2 separate regions of the Homo sapiens genome follow, and region 1 is linked to region 2. Evidence: fine-mapped expression QTL. Tissue or cell type: nucleus accumbens. Region 2 holds a variant in brackets; the other region holds the start of a gene. All regions are shown on one strand. Distances are from middle to middle.

Evidence for each region. PIP is the estimated chance that this variant, and not a neighbour inherited with it, causes the effect.
Region 1: it holds the start of GP6, and the variant in region 2 is fine-mapped to the expression of GP6 in nucleus accumbens (GTEx, PIP 0.99).

What each region holds. Positions count from the first base shown.
Region 1 is chr19:55,034,229-55,042,314 of GRCh38, reverse strand. GP6 (glycoprotein VI platelet) reads left to right here and starts at 4,051. Exons shown (of 8, transcript NM_016363.5): 1 at 4,051-4,112. The coding sequence starts at 4,079. All of the region lies in intron 2 of GP6-AS1 (GP6 antisense RNA 1), which reads right to left. It also overlaps a transcript of RDH13 not described here.
Region 2 is chr19:54,037,831-54,045,934 of GRCh38, reverse strand. VSTM1 (V-set and transmembrane domain containing 1) reads left to right here. Exons shown (of 9, transcript NM_198481.4): 5 at 3,566-3,658; 6 at 3,739-3,766; 7 at 3,982-4,019; 8 at 4,119-4,156; 9 at 4,855-5,110. The coding sequence ends at 4,974. Among named protein-coding and RNA genes, the nearest start is that of VSTM1, 22 kb to the left of the region's middle. The variant T/C (reference allele first, on the strand shown) is at 4,472.

The DNA of each region.
Region 1 (8,086 bases), 1.0 Mb before region 2:
TACATGTGCGATGGCAACTGACAGGGTCCCTGATAAACCGGAGTGCTCCAGAAACACCCCATTGCGTGGGACGGAGGATGTTAGGTGGCCCTCCTAGCGTTTGAGTTTGATAAATGAGCAAAGGAAGTGGTTTTTACTAGAAAGCCAGCTTTCCTTTTTTTTTTTTTTTTTTTTCCAGCCAGCAAACCCCAAACAGGAACCTATGGTTGGTGATGGATGTGCGTTCAGAAAGCAGGGAGGGAGGGGGAGTCAGAGGTGAGGGGGTCATCAGCCATAGCTGTCCGCTGCATCACCCCCTCGCTATCTCCAGGAAGCGTTCTGGGCTTTTCCTGTTGTGCAGTGTGGAAGTGCTCTATCTTCATTCATATCAAGGAAAGTCAAAGGACAAACTAAAGCCGGCAGCGTCTTTCTGGCTTCCTAGTCAGGCTGTTCGGTAGCGGAGTGTCACCCTGATTTCCAGCCCCGCAGCACACACAGTGAGAGCCTGCCTGGCGTGATTCAGAGGCAACGTATTTCCCAAGGTGGCTGTGAAGGAACCAGGGGGATAAACACAGCCCGTGAACCGCACGCCAGAGGACAGGTCCGGCTGCCTGCCGCGGAGTCGTCACGGCGTGTCGCGTCTGAGCGCTTCTCCAAAGCACCCAAGTGGCACCCGGGGTGACAGTTACATCATCTTGAGTACAGTTCTCTCAAGGAAAAAGCAAGCCCAGCATCTTCTGCCATGGCAACCCTGGCTTGGAGCCTCCATAAGAGAGAAGGCCCTAAGAATAATACCATTTTCTTGCTCTAAGTTGCTCTTACGGGAAAGAAGTGATAATATTCTTCCTAAACGCCATCATTCGTGCATCCTTCCCACCTATATGTGTCACCGGATCATTCTCCGCCTGGGCGGGGCCGTCCTGTGCACTGCAGAATGCTGAGCAGTGTCCTTGGCTTCGACCGACCACATGCCAGGAGCACCCCAATTTCTGCCATCGGGTGATTGACTTCACTGTTGCATTTGATTTTTTATGTATCTTTTAAAAGGACCCAATAGGGCCAGGCACAGTGGCTCACACTTGTAATCCCAGCACTTTGGGAGGCTGAGGTCGGTGGATTGCTTGAGCCCAGGAGGAGTTCAAGACCAGCCTGGGCAACATAGTGAAACCCCAACTCTACAAAAAACAAATGTTTTATTTTTATTTATTTTAGATGGAGTTTCACTCTTGTTGCCCAGGCTGGAGTGCAGTGGCGCAATCTCGGCTCACTGCAACTTCTGCCTCCCGGGTTCAAGCGATTCTCCTGCCTCAGCCTCCTGAGTATCTGGGATTACAGGCATGCGCCACCACACCCAGCTAATTTTGTATTTTTAGTAGAGATGGCGTTTCTCCATGTTGGTCAGGCTGGTCTCAAACTCCCGACCTCAGGTGATCTGCCTGCCTCGGCCTCCCAGAGTGTTGGGATTACAGGCGTGAGCCACCACGCCCAGCCGGGTTTATAGTTTTATAACCCTTATGACAAATCTCATAGTATTCTGCAGGGATAAGCATGAAACCACTCGTTCAATAAGTGCAAACAAAAACGCCAACAATTCTTAAGACATTTCTAATCTTATTTTACCAATAATTTTAAAGCCAGCTTATGTATTAAAGATTTATAACTACTTTTATTAACACGTTTAAAATTCTATGCAGCTTAAAGCATTTATAATGGATAAAACTGCCAATACTGAGTGCCTGACATAATATTTGAAAGGTGGCAGGCATTCAACCATGGTCACTGAATGAGAGATGTAGGGAAGATGATGGCAGGGAGGTTTTTAGATATCAACACCCTGATAGTTCTCATTTTAACCACCTGTAAGTGCACATACAAGTCAACGGCACTGGCCGGGCGCGGTGGCTCATGCCTGTATTCCCAGCACTTTGGGAGGCCAAATCACAAGGTCAGGAGATCGAGACCATCCTGGCTAACACGGTGAAACCCCGTCTCTACTAAAAATACAAAAAATCAACTAGGCATGGTGGCACGCACCTGTAGTCCCAGCTACTCAGGAGGCTGAGGCAGGAGAATCGCTTGAACCTGGGAGGCGGAGGTTGCGGTGAGCCAAGATCGCGCCACTGCACTCCAGCCTCGGCGACAGAGTGAGACTCCGTCTCAAAAAACCAAAAAACAAAAAACAGTCAATGGCATTAAATATAAATACATTTACAGTGTTGTGTAACCATCACCACTATGGATCCCCCAGACTTTGTCATCATCTTCAACCTAAGCGCTCCCTATTAAATAGTAACTCCCCACTTTTCCCAGGCCTTGGCAACCACCATTCTAATCCCTGTCTCTATGAATTTGACTCCTCTCGATACCTCAGATAAGCGGCACAATGCAGTATTTATCTGTCAAGTCCGGAATATTTCCTTTAGCATAATGTCTTCAAGGTCCATCACGTTGTAGCATGTATCTGAATTTATTCTTTTATAATATTTTTTATTTTTTGGAGACAGAATCTCGCTCTGTCACCCAGGCTGGAGTGCAATGGCGCGATCTCGGCTCACCGCAACTTCCGCGTCCCGGGTTCAAGCCATTCTCCTGTCTCAGCCTCCGGAGTAGCTGGGACTACAGGTGCCTGCCGCCATGCCCGGCTATTTTTTTTTTGTATTTTTTGGGGGTTTTACTGTGTTGCCCAGGCTGGTCTTGAACTGCTGAGCTCAGGCAATCTGCCTGCCTCAGCCTCCTAAAGTACTAGGATTACAGGCATGGGCCACCACGCCCGGCCTTATTTTTATTTTTGAGACAGTCTCACTCTGCCGCCCAGGCTGGAGTGCAGTGGTGCGATCTCGGCTTACCGCAATCTCTGCCTCCCAGGTTCAAGCGATTCTCATGCCTCCGTCTCCCAAGTAGCTGGGATTACAGGCACCTGCCACCATGCCCGGCTAATTTAACGCCCAGCTAATTTTTGTATTTTTAGTAGAGATGGGGTTTCACCATGTTAACCAGGCTGGTCTCGGACTCCTGACCTCAGGTGATCCGCCCGCCTCGGCCTCCCAAAGTGCTGGGATTACAGGCGTGAGCCACTGTGCCTGGCTGATTTTTATTCTTTTAGTTAAGGCTGGTTGATATTACCTTGTGTGTATATACCACATGTTGTTTATCCATTGTTGTTGATGGACATGTGGGTGGTTTCACCTTTTGGCTATTGTGAATAAAGCTGCTATGAACACTGTGTACAAATATGTTAGAGACCCTGTTTTCAGTTCTTTTAGGTGTGTACCCCGAAGTGGAATTGCTGGATTTTATGGCAATCCCACGTTTAACTTCTGGAGGAGCTGCTGGAACTGTTTTCCACAGCAGGGGCGCCATGTTACGTCCCTGCCAGCAATGCACGCGCAGTTCAATTTCTCTGCATACTCACCAATATCTGCTGTTTTCCATTAAAAAAAATTATAGCCGGTCGGGTGCAGTGGCTCATGCCTGTAATCCCAGCACTTTGGGAGACCGAGGCAGGTGGATCAACTGAGGTCAGGAGTTCAAGACCAGCCTGGCCAACACAGTGAAACCCCATCTCTACTAAAAATACAAAAATTAGCCTGGTGTGGTACATACCTATAATCCCAGCCACTTGGGAGGCTGAGGCAGGAGAATCGCTTGAACCTGGGAGGTGGAGGTTGTAGTGGGCCGAGATGGCGCCACTGCACTCCAACCTGGGCAAAAAGAACGAGACTTTGTCTCAAAAGAAAAAAAAAAAATACAGCCATTCCAGAAGGTGTGAAGTCATATCTCACTGTGGTTTTGATGCGTATTTTCCTAGTGACATCAGGGAGTTTATGGGAGCACGGGAACACAGACCAGGCCCCAGCAGGCGGACAAACGGTGCAACGCCAGGCTGGCCAGAGGAGATAAGCGCGGCTCCTTGGAGCTTGTGTGCAAGTCACTGTACTGAGGAGCCGGCTACGGCTCGATGAGTCTCAATTAGGAAAGGCCGGGGCTGGTGGAGGAAGGGAGGAGAGCATTCTTCATCCTCATCACATCCTGAGCCTGTGCCCCAGGCTCCCACCACTTCCCTCCCTGGCCACAGAGCTCAGGACAGGGCTGAGGAACCATGTCTCCATCCCCGACCGCCCTCTTCTGTCTTGGTGAGTCCTGAGGGTCAGATCTGGGAAATGCTGAAGGACAGGCATGGACTGCCAGACAAAGGATTTTTAAGAAATTTGCATTGGTGATGAATTTCAGGACAAAAAGGAACCTGTAAGAGCCCCTTCATTTGTTGGGTGGGGAAACGGGGGGCCAGCGAGCTGGCATTTTGCATGAGTTATTCCAGTGTATTCATGGCTGGGTCAGGAAATGAACAGAGTATCCTAGCATTGGTCACAACTTTGTTCTACTACACTGCAGTTGCCCCTTTTTTAAAAAATGTGGGCCAGGCACAGTGGCTCACGCCTGTAATCTCAACCTTGGGAGGCCGAGGTGGGTGGATCACCTGAGGTCAGGAGTTCAAGACCAGCCTGGTCAACATGGTGAAACCCCATCTCTACAAAAATTAGCCGGGCGTGATGGCGGGTGCTTGTAATCCCAGCTACGTGGGAGGCTGAGGTGGGAGAATTGCTTGAAACTGGGAGGCAGAAGTTGCAGTGAGCTGAGGTCAGGCATTGCACTCCAGCCTGGGCAACAGAGAGAGCCTCCATCTCAAAAAAAAAAAAAAAAAAAAAAAAAAAGGCTGAGTGCCATGGCTTACACACTTTGGGAGGCCGAGGCGGGTGGGCCATCTGAGGTCGGGAGTTTGAGACCAGCCTGACCAACATGGAGAAACCCCATCTCTACTAAAAATACAAAATTAGCCGGGTGTGGTGGCACATGCCTGTAATCCCAGCTACTCTGGAGGCTAAGGCAGGAGAATCGCTTGAACCTGGGAGGTGGAGGTTGCGGTGAGCCAAGATCACACCATTGCACTCTGGCCTGGGCAACAAGAGCGAAACTCCGTCTCAAAAAAAAAAAAAAAAAAATTGTGGAATTGATATCTGGACTAGGTATGGATTTAATTTGTCAGTATCCCCTACAGTAGTGGAGTAAATAGTCTCCTGATGGATGGGTGGCAGGTCGAATGCATTTCTGCTGCCTGATCTTCACTTGTGCTGGGCATGTCGAATGCATTATTTCCTGATTTCTTCAGAATTTGACCACTAAAGGGACAGCATCTCCAAAAGGCTAAGCAGGAAGAAGATGGTTGCATTACTGGAGATGAGAGGGTTAACTGTGAATATAAACAACCTCTCATTCATTATCCATCCATGGATGTATTCTTTTTTTCTTTTTGTTTGTTTTTTGAGATGGAGTCTCGCTCAGTCGGTCGCTCAGGCTGGAATGCAATGGCATGATCTCAGCTCACTGCAAACTCTGCCTCCCGGGTCCAAGTGATTCTCCTGCCTCAGCCTCCCGAATAGTTGGGATTACAGGCATCTGCCACCAGGTCTGGCTAATTATTGTATTTTTAGTAGGGGCGGGGTTTCACCATGTTGGCCAGGCTGGTCTCAAGCTCCTTACTTCAGGTTCCACCCGCCTCGGCCTCCCAAAGTGCTGGGATTACAGGCGTGAGCCACCGCACCCAGCCTGTTTTAACTTTTATTTATTTAATTTTATTTGAGATAGGGCCTCACTTCTGTCACCCAGGCAGGAGGGCAGTGGCATGATCATGGCTCACTGCAGCCTCAACCTCCCAGGCTCAACCAGTGCCTCCCCATCAGCCTCCTGAGTATCTGGAACTACAGTTGTACACCATCATGCCTGGCTTGTTTTTGTAATTTTTTTAGTTACGGGGGTCCGCTATGTTGCCCAGGCTGGTCTTGAACTCCTGGGCTCAAGCGATCCACCCACCTCGGCCTCCCAAAGTGTTGGGGTTACAGGTGTGGCCTGTACAGGTTACTGCATCTGGCTTGTTGCTTCAGTAGCTTTTGGGATACAAGTGGTTCTTGGTTACATGGATGAATTATATTCTGGTGAATTCTGAGATTTTAGTGCACCTGTCACCTGACTAGTGTACCTTGTACCTAATGTGTAGTTTTTCATCCCTGCCCCACTTCTGCCCTTCCCTTCTGAGTCTCTGAAGTCCATTACATCACTCTGCATGCCTTTGCATACCCACAGCTTAGCTCTCACTTATAAGTGAGAATATACAGATTTTTGTTTTCCACTCCTGTATTACTTTACTTAGAATAATGCCTTCCAGCTCCATCCAAGTTGCTGCAAAAGACTTTTTTTTTTTTTTTTTAAAGACGGAATCTCGCTCTCTCACCAAGGCTGGAGTGCAGTGGTGTGATCTCGGCTTACTGCAAACTCCACCTCCCGGGTTTAAGTGATTCTCCTGCCTCAGCCTCCCGAGTAGCTGGGACTACAGGCACCCGCCACCATGCCCGGCTAATTTTTGTATTTTTAGTAGAGATGGGGTTTCACCATGTTGGGCAGGATGGTCTTGATCTCTTGACCTCGTGATCCACCCACCTCGGCCTCCCAGAGTGCTGGCATTACAGATGTGAGCCACTGTGCCTGGCCAAAAGACATTATTTCACTCCTTTTAATGGCTGAGTAGTATTCCACGCTCATTTATTTTTATTTATTTTTATTTTTTGACATGGAGTCTCACTCTGTTGCCCAGACTGGAGCGCAGTGGCATGACGTTGGCTCACTGCAACCTCCACCTCCCAGGTTCAAGCGATTCTCCTGCCTCAGCCTCCCAAGTAGCTGGGATTACAGGCTCCTGCCACTACGCCCCGCTAATTTTTGTATTTTTAGTAGAGACAGGGTTTCACCATGTTGGTCAGGCTGCTCTCGAACTCCTGACTTCAGGTGATCCGCCCACCTTGGCCTCCCAAAATGGGATTACAGGTGTGAGCCAGCGCGCCCGGCCGGTGAGAACATTTAAAATCTACTATCGGTGATATGCAAGTGTACAATATGTTGTTATTAACTACAGTCACCATGATGTGCAGTAGATCTCCAAGACATACTCCTCTTGTCCAACTGAAACTGTCCTCCTCTGACCAACATCTCCCCAAACCTTACCCCACCGCCCCGGTAACCACCACTGTGCTCTCTACTCCTGTAAGTTCCCAAGTCCACACTCTTTACCACTAATTGGTGCTGCTAGGGTTTGAATCTACTCCTGCCAGCTGTAGGACTGTGGATAAGATACTGTCTCACTAGCCTGATGTATAAGAGGGGACTGATAATGGTGGGTAACCCGTACGATTATGGCGACTTGGAGTCCATGCACAGAAGGCGCTCAGCACGGCGCCTGGAAGACTCCCAGCCATGGTACAGCGTCGCATGGAAACCTACAAAGAGGCTGAGGTGGGCTGTGATGCGGCAGGAGGAGGGGGACAGAGAAGCGGCCGGAGCTTGCGTTGGGGTGCAGAGGGAGCCTGGGGTGGACAAAGGGTGGTGGCTATGGGGGCGCTGGTGACAAGTTGTCACTCTCTGAGCTCAGAGTCAAGACATGAGCTGGGTTCACCCACTTCTTGCTATGTGAGCTACACAAGGTTGCTTGGCCTCTGCCCAGTTTCCTTATGTTTACAGTGGGAATGACAACTATCCCGCCTTTGTGTGTGTGTGTGTGTGTGTGTGTGTGTAAGAATGAGGGTTACCAGATAAAACACTGGATGCCTGGTTAAATTGGAATTTCAGATAATTAGTACTTTTTTTTTCCTCCTCCTCTTCGTTTTCTGAGACAGGGTCTTGCTCTGTTGTCAGTCTGGAGTGCAATGGGGCAATATCATTTTTTTTTTTCCTCGAGATGGAGTCTTGCTCTGTTGCCCAGGCTGGAGTGTAGTGGCGTGATCTTGGCTCACTGCAACCTCCGCCTCCCGGGTTCAAGTGATTCTCCTGACTCAGCCTCCCCAGTAGCTAGGATTACAGGCACGTGCCACCATGCCCAGCTAATTTCTGGTATTTTTAGTAGAGATGGTGTTTCACCATGTTGACCAGGCTGGTCTTGAACTCCTGACCTTGTGATCCGCCCACCCTGGCCTCCCAAAGTGCTGGGATTATAGGCATGAGCCACCGTGCCCGGCCAGTGGTGCAATCTTACCTCACAGCAGACTTGACCTCCTGGGCTCAA
Region 2 (8,104 bases):
TAGATAACTAGATATAATAGATAAGATAGATGATTAGATAGACAGATAATTAGATATGATTGATAGATACATTAGATAGATGATAGATTAGATAGATAGATGATAGGTAACTAGGTAGCTAGATAAAGCTAGCTAGATAGATAGATAGATATACAGATACACAGATAGATACATAGATACCTAGATAGGTGATAGAGTTGCAAGATAGAAAAATTAGATAAGTAGGTGGATAGATAGATAGATAACTAGATAGAATAGATTAAATAGATAATAGTAGGTGAATAGACAGATACATACAGATGATAGATGATAGATGATAGATAACTGGTTATGATTGATAGATACATTAGATAGATGATAGATTTGGTAACTAGATGATAGGTAAGTCGGTAGATAGATAAGTGATAATTAGATATGATAGGATGGATAGATTAGACAGACAGCAGGTAAGCAGGTGGATAGACAGATAAAGATAGATACATAGATGCCTAGATAAGTGATAGATTAACAAGATAGAAAAATTAGACAGACAGATAGTTAATTACATATGATAGGATAGATAGATTGGATAGGTGATAGGCAAGTAGGTAGATAGATAAATCATAATTAGATAGGACGGATAGATTGGATAGATGATAGGTAAGTAGGTACAGAGACAGATAAAGATAGATAGGTAGATAGATAATAGATACCTAGACAGATGGTAGATAGATTAGCGAGATAGATAAATTAGATAGGTAATTCTCTATATATAGATATGTAGAAATGCCAATGCAAACATAGCGAACCAAGTAGGGGAAGCGTCTGGATGGGAGACCCTCTGTTGGTGCAGAGGACCAGGCGTGTGAAGCATCTCAGACTTGGCTCTGTAATGTGACCACAGATCATTGCACACCTAGGAAAAATTCTCAGACTCAAAGCACACTAACAAAGATAGCGGGGGTCTTGGTGAAGCCCCTTTCTGGGGCCTCACTTCTATAGTTGCTCAACTTTTTTCCTTAATCACGTTTCTGCTACTTACTCCTTAAAGTCTCACGACTTGTGTTTCTTGAATCTAAAGTGCCAAGAAAAACAAAAAACGGGGGGGAACTGCATGGACTCTGTCGCCTAGCTTTAGTAACAGGTTGCTCTCTCTTCCTCAACGCTGTGAGCTTTGGACACAACCCTTGCTGTAATCCCAGGAGTCACACGGGAATGCATGCCCTTCACCAGTGGGAGGGAAATAATTGTACTACCTTGCAGGGTTGTTGTTAAGACTTTAAAACGCTATGATGTAGACTTGCATGGCAATATTGCTCAAGAACTAGTTTTTTTTGTTTTGTTTTGTTTTTGTTTTTTAATTGGTAGAAATTTTATCTCCTGAGAGGGATGCTTTTTTGAGTTGGAGTCTTGGTCAGTTGAGTGTATGATGCAGTGATGCGATCTCGGCTCACTGCAACCTCCGCCTCCCAGGTTCAAGCAATTCTCTTCTCTCAGCCTCCTGAGTAGCTGGGACTACAGGCGTGCGCCACCATGCCCAGCTTATTTTTTATATTTTCAGTAGAGACAGGGTTTCACCATGTTGGCCAGGCTGGTCTCGAACTCCAGACCTCAAGTGATCCACCTACTTCACTCTCCCAAAGTGCCAGGATTACAGGCGTGAGCCACCGTGCCCGGCCACTGGTCATTCTTTTCTACCCTGCTCTAACCCTGTTCTTATTAGGAATCCTCCCTGAATTCTCCCAGCTGATCCCTTGTTCTGTGTCTTGGGGAATCATGTCTCCTTCAGAGAGCCCCACCCCTCCCCACTCTAAACGCCTTCCATGCCCGTGTCACTGCTGTTCATTACCTGGCATCAACGAGCTCATTGAAGTGTGTTTGAAGTTGGCTGGGCGTGGTGGTCTGTACTCCCAGCTACCCTGGAGGCCGAGTGAGGAGGACCACTTGAGCCCAGGAATTCGAGTATGATCACACCACTGCACTCTAGCCTGGGCAACAATGGGAACCCATTGGCACATCTGGGATTGGCATCCTGAGCTCCCATCTGTGACCTCCCTCCTCTCCCCTCCTCTCCCCTCCATTGCCCTCACCCTCTCCCCATAATCTTCACATCCCGTCCTTTCACATCTCTCTCTCTCCTTTAAAAAAAGAAAAAGGAAATATGTTTGAAGTTAAGAGCTGAGATCATGTCTGTGTTAGCCAGGGTTTTCCAGAAAAACAGAACCAATAGAACATATAGATATAAGCTGGGTGTGGTGGCTCACGCCTGTAATCCCAGCACTTTGGGAGGCCGAGGCAGGCAGATTGCCTGAGGTCAGTAGTTCAAGACCAGCGTGGCCAACATGGCGAAACCCCGTCTCTACTAAAAATACAAAAATTAGCCGGGCGTGATGGTGGGCACCTGTAATCCCAGCTACTCAGGAGGCTAAGGCAGGAGAATTGCTTGAACCCGGGAGGCGGAGCTTGCAGTGAGCCAAGATTGCACTATTGCACTCCAGCCTGGACGATAAGAGTGAGACTTTGTCTCAAAAAAAAAAAAGAGAACATATACATGTATATACATATATGGAGAGAGAGATTGATTTTAATGGATTGGTTCACGTGATTGTGGGGAGCTGGCAAGTCTGAAATCTGCAGGGCAGGCAGGCAGGGGATCCAGGGGAGACTTGATATTGCAGCTTGAGTCTGGAGGCAGAATTCCTTCCACCTTGGGGGACCTCAGTCTTTTCTCTTAAAGTCTTAAAGTCTTCAACTGATTGGATGAGGCCCACCCCTATGACAGTGGGTCATCTGCTTTACTCAAAGTCTATTGGTCGAAATGTCCAGCTCCAAGGAAGTTCCAGCTCCAAGGTGGGAGATCCAGGCTTGGAAGCCAGGCCATCTGTCTGGCTTCTCTTAGCTTTTCTACTCACCCCATCAGTGGATTTCAGACAGTGATTACACAGACAGATGTGGTGGCTCACGCCTGTAATCCCAACTACTCAGGAGGCTGAGTCAGGAGAATTGTTTGAACCAGGGAGGTGGAGGTTGCAGTGAGCCAGGATCACACTCCAGCCTGGGTGACAGAACACGACTCCATCTCAAAAAAAAAAAAGTGTGTATATATATATATATATGTATATATATATATATATATATATATATATATACACATTTATATATACACACACATATATATACATTTATATATATATATACACACACACACACGTATATATATATATGGAGCACCTGGAACAGAGCTGGCTCACAATAAATGATCAATATCATTGCTATGCACCAAACATTCCCTGGGAATTTTTGGAATTTCCTATGCGCCAAGCACTGTTCCAGCCCTTTCTATAGGTACTGACCCACCATCCAATAAAGTAGCTACTGCTGCTATCCTCACTTTACAGATGGGGAAACAGAAGCTTGGAGAAGATTAAGGAAATTCCCCAAAGCAATAGGAAGTTCCAGCTCCGAGGTGGGAGATCCAGGCTTGGAAGCCAGGCCATCTGTCTGGCTTCTCTTAGCTTTTCGGCTCGCCCCTATCAGTGGATTTCAGGAGCCAGGCTGATTCCCTGACCTGCTCTTCCCCCTCCAGACACCAGAACCATCTTTGTCGCCATCTTCAGCTGCATCTCCATCCTTCTCCTCTTCCTCTCAGTCTTCATCATCTACAGATGCAGCCAGCACAGTGAGCTCAGAGAACGCAAAGGGAGAGAGGGGGAGTGAAGGATTTTCTCGGTAGGTAAATTCCTCCTGCATTTTTTGTAGGTTCATCATCTGAGGAATCCACCAAGAGGTAGATGCTTGGCATAGCTCATGCTCCACTTATTCCCATGTCATTCTCAAGGGAACCCATTGGCACATCCGGGATTGGCACCCTGAGCCCCCACCCCAGCCCATTCTGTGACCTTCCTCCTCTCCCTTCTTCTCCCTTCCTCTCCCCTCCATTGCCCTCACCCTCTCCCCGAAATCTTCACATCCCATCCTTTCACGTGTGTCTCTCTCTTTCAGAACCAGCCATTCCAAACTTCCGGAGCAGGAGGCTGCCGGTAAGGGACAGGGGAAGTTTAAGGGAATCACCGGATAGAAAGACTAAGTTCTGACTTCTGCAGCTGAGAACTGATTTTTTTTTTTCCTTTCTCACTCAGAGGCAGATTTATCCAATATGGAAAGGGTATCTCTCTCGGTGAGTCCTCCCGCTTAGGAGTCCCACAAGAGCTCCCTCACCACAATGGGCTGGTCGTGTGTGCCTCCTGGTTAAGCCCATACAGAAATGTATACTGTTTATCACGCATGTGGTCTTAGACAAGTCACGAAACTCCCCTAATGGGAACCAAAATCTCCATTTAAAAGGCTTATGCATGGGCCGGGCGCGGTGGCTCACGCCTGTAATCCCAGCACTTTGGGAGGCCGAGGCGGGCGGATCATGAGGTCAGGAGATCGAGACCATCCTGGTTAACATGGTGAAACCCCATCTCTACTAAAGATACAAAAAATTAGC[T/C]GGGCGTGGTAGTGGGCGCCTGTAATCCCAGCTACTCAGGAGGCTGAGCCAGGAGAATGGCTTGAACCCGGGAGGCGGAGGTTGCAGTGAGCCGAGATCACGCCACCGCACTCCAGCCTGGGCGACAGAGCCAGACTCTGTCCCAAAATAAATAAATAAATAAAAATTTAAAAAAAATGAAAAAAGGCTTACGCAGATCCATTGATGTCACAGGCATAAAGGGTTATAAAAACAGAAAAGAAAAAGAAATGCATCTGGTGTGACCGAGGACCTGGGTTTTAAATTAAATTTAATTGTAATTAACTTAAATGTCAATAGCCATGTGTGGCTAGTGGCTGCCATATTGAACACTCAGTTCTAATATTCATCTATTTTCTCCAAAGACGGCAGACCCCCAAGGAGTGACCTATGCTGAGCTAAGCACCAGCGCCCTGTCTGAGGCAGCTTCAGACACCACCCAGGAGCCCCCAGGATCTCATGAATATGCGGCACTGAAAGTGTAGCAAGAAGACAGCCCTGGCCACTAAAGGAGGGGGGATCGTGCTGGCCAAGGTTATCGGAAATCTGGAGATGCAGATACTGTGTTTCCTTGCTCTTCGTCCATATCAATAAAATTAAGTTTCTCGTCTTAAAAAGAAATCTGACTTATTTATGGATTATTCATGCCCAAGAACCCCACCATACTCTTTCTACCCCACATTTCCTCCTAGAACAATTCAAGGAAATAATAAATAATGATTGACCAGCTATCCAGGAAAGAATGTAAGAATTACTGAGCATCTCCAGGAAGCACAACAAGCAAAAAAGAAAACGGCCGGGCTCACGCCTGTCATCCCAGCACTTTGGGAGGCCGAGGTGGGTGGATCATCTGAGGTCAGAGTTCAAGACCAGCCTGACCAACATGGTGAAATCCCATCTCTACTAAAAATAAAAAATTAGTTGGACGTGGTGGCAGGCGCCTGTAATCCCCGCTACTTGGGAGACTGAGGCAGAAGAATCGCTTGAACCCAGGAGGCAGAGATTGCAGTGAGCTGAGATGGCGCCATTGAATTCCAGCCTGGGCAATGGAGTGAGACTCCATCTCAAAAAAAAAAAAAAAAAAAAACAAAAAACGCCCAGAGCTGCAAACTCCTAGACCAGAGGGCAGAAAACAAAAGGACCAGAGAGTAACACGTCCAGCTTTGTGGGCTGTAGGATCTCTGCTGAGACTACCCCACTCTGCTGTTGTACCATGAAAGCAGCCATCGCTGATATGTAAACAAGTAGGTGTGGCGGTGTTAGAATAAAACTTTATTTACAACTTCATGTTCTCACTCATGTAGGAGCTAAAAAAGTAGATCTCATGAAGGTAAAGAGAGAGTCAGTTATCAAAGGCTAGAAGGGGTGGGATAGTTAATGGGCACAAACACAGTTGGATAGAAGGAATAAGTTCAAGTGTTCAATAGCACAGAAGGGTGACTATAGTTAACAGCAATATATTGTATATTTCAAAATAGCTAGAAGAGAAGATTTGAAACATTCCCAACACAAACGATAAATGAGCCAGGTGCAGTGGCTCACTCCTGTAATCCCAACACTTTGAGAGGCCAAGATGGGTGGATCACCTGAGGTCAGGAGTTCAAGACCAGCCTGGCCAACAAGGTGAAACCCCATCTCCACTAAAAATACAAAAATTAGCTGGGTGTGGTGGCGCACACCTGTAATCCCAGCCACTTGGGAGGCTGAGGCAGAAGAATTGCTTGAACTCGGGAGGCAGAGGTTGCAGTGAGCCAAGATCACACCACTGTACTCCAGCCTGGGCGACAGAGAGAGACTCTGTCTCGAAAAGATAAAAAAAAAGATAAATGTTTGAGGTGGTGAATATCCTAAATACCCTAATTTGAGTATTATACATTCTGTGCATGTATCAAACTATCACATGTATGTCATAAATATGCATAAATATTATGTATCTATAGAAAGTTTTTTTTTTTTTGATGGAGTCTTGCTCTGTCGCCCAGGCGCCAGAGTGCAGTGGCGTGATCTCAGCTCGCTGCAACCTCTCCCCGCAGGTTCAAATGATTCTCCTGTCTCAGCCTCCTGAGTAGCTGGGATTACAAGCTTCTGCCATCACACCAGGCTAATTTTTTTGTATTTTTAGTAGAGATGGGGTTTCACCATGTTGGCCAGGCTGGTCTTGAGCTCCTGACCTCAAGTCATCCGCCTGCCTCGGCTTCCCATAGTGCTGGGATTACAGGCGTGAGCCACCGTGCCCAGCCCAGAAAGTTGTTTTAAAAACAAAAAATTTTATTTGCAAAAACAAGCTGTGGGCTCTAGCGTGCCAACCCTTGTGCTAGGCCAGTGCTTTTTAAAGTCTGCTTGGGCCATCACCCCAACCACTTCTGGCCCTGATGAGGGTCCAGGGCATGAGAGGGAAGGAGAGAGTGTCTTAGTCCATCCAGGCTGCTATCAACATACCAAAGACCTGGCAGCTTACAGACAACACATAGTTATTTCTCATGGTTCTGGAGGCTGGAAGTCCAAGACCAAAGCACTGGTAGATTCAGTGTCTGCTGAGGGCTTTTTTCCTGGTTCATAGCTGGCACCTTCTTGCTGTGTCCTTACATAGTGAAAGAGACTGGGCCGGGCGCAGTGGCTCACGCCTGTAATCTCAGGACTTTGGGAGACCGAGTGGGGGGCGGATCACCTGAGATCAGGAGTTCGAAACCAGCCTGACCAACACGGTGAAACCCCATCTCTACTAAAAATATAAAAATTAGCTGGGCGCAGTGGTGGGTGCCTGTCATCCCAGCTACTTGGGAGGCTGAGGCAGGAGAATTGCTTGCACCTGGGAGGCGGAGGTTGAAGTGAGCCGAAATCGTGCCACTGCACTCCAGCCTGAATGACAGAGCCAGACTCCATCTCAAAAAAAAAAAAAAAAAAAAGAGTGAAGGCTTAATAAGCAAAAGAAAGAGAAAAGAGAATAGTTCTCTCTTTTGCACAGAGAAGAGAGGGGTTCCCGAGTGGGACCCCTGGTTTTGTGGTGAAATGCATGGGGCTTTTATAGACAAGCTTGAGGAGGTGCTGTCTGATTTACATAGGGCCTGAGAGATTAGTCGGACCAGGTATGACGTTTGCATAGCCCCCAAAGAAGCTGGCCATCCCACCCTAATCTTTTATTACGTAGGTAGGGTCTCTGCCTGGCCGGGGCCATGTTGTCTGCTTTTTTACTGCACATGTGGGGACAAAGAAAAGGGAAGAGGGAACCTCCATGTTGAATATACCCGGCTCCCAGGCATCCGTTTTCTATTGGCACAGCTGATGCAAGATTTTAGCTTGTTTATCTATGCTTGCAGCTTGATGTTTCAGGCTGCTTTCTGTTAGAAAAGAAATTATTTGGGGGCTGCTCTTTATTAATAGGAAACCTTACTGAGGACTCTCTTACCCTCACTGTCTGCCTCAATAATTTCTTTTTAGCTCCCGTATTACAAATACCATCACCTTGGGGTTAGGTTCCAACAGCTGAATTTTGTCGGGACACAAACATTGAGTTTACAATACCCATGAAGCTGTCTCTGCTTGTATCTTGTCCTAACCAGAAGCTCCCAGGATTGCTGCATCTGAAGGAACAACCTTGATATATGGCTTGTGTCT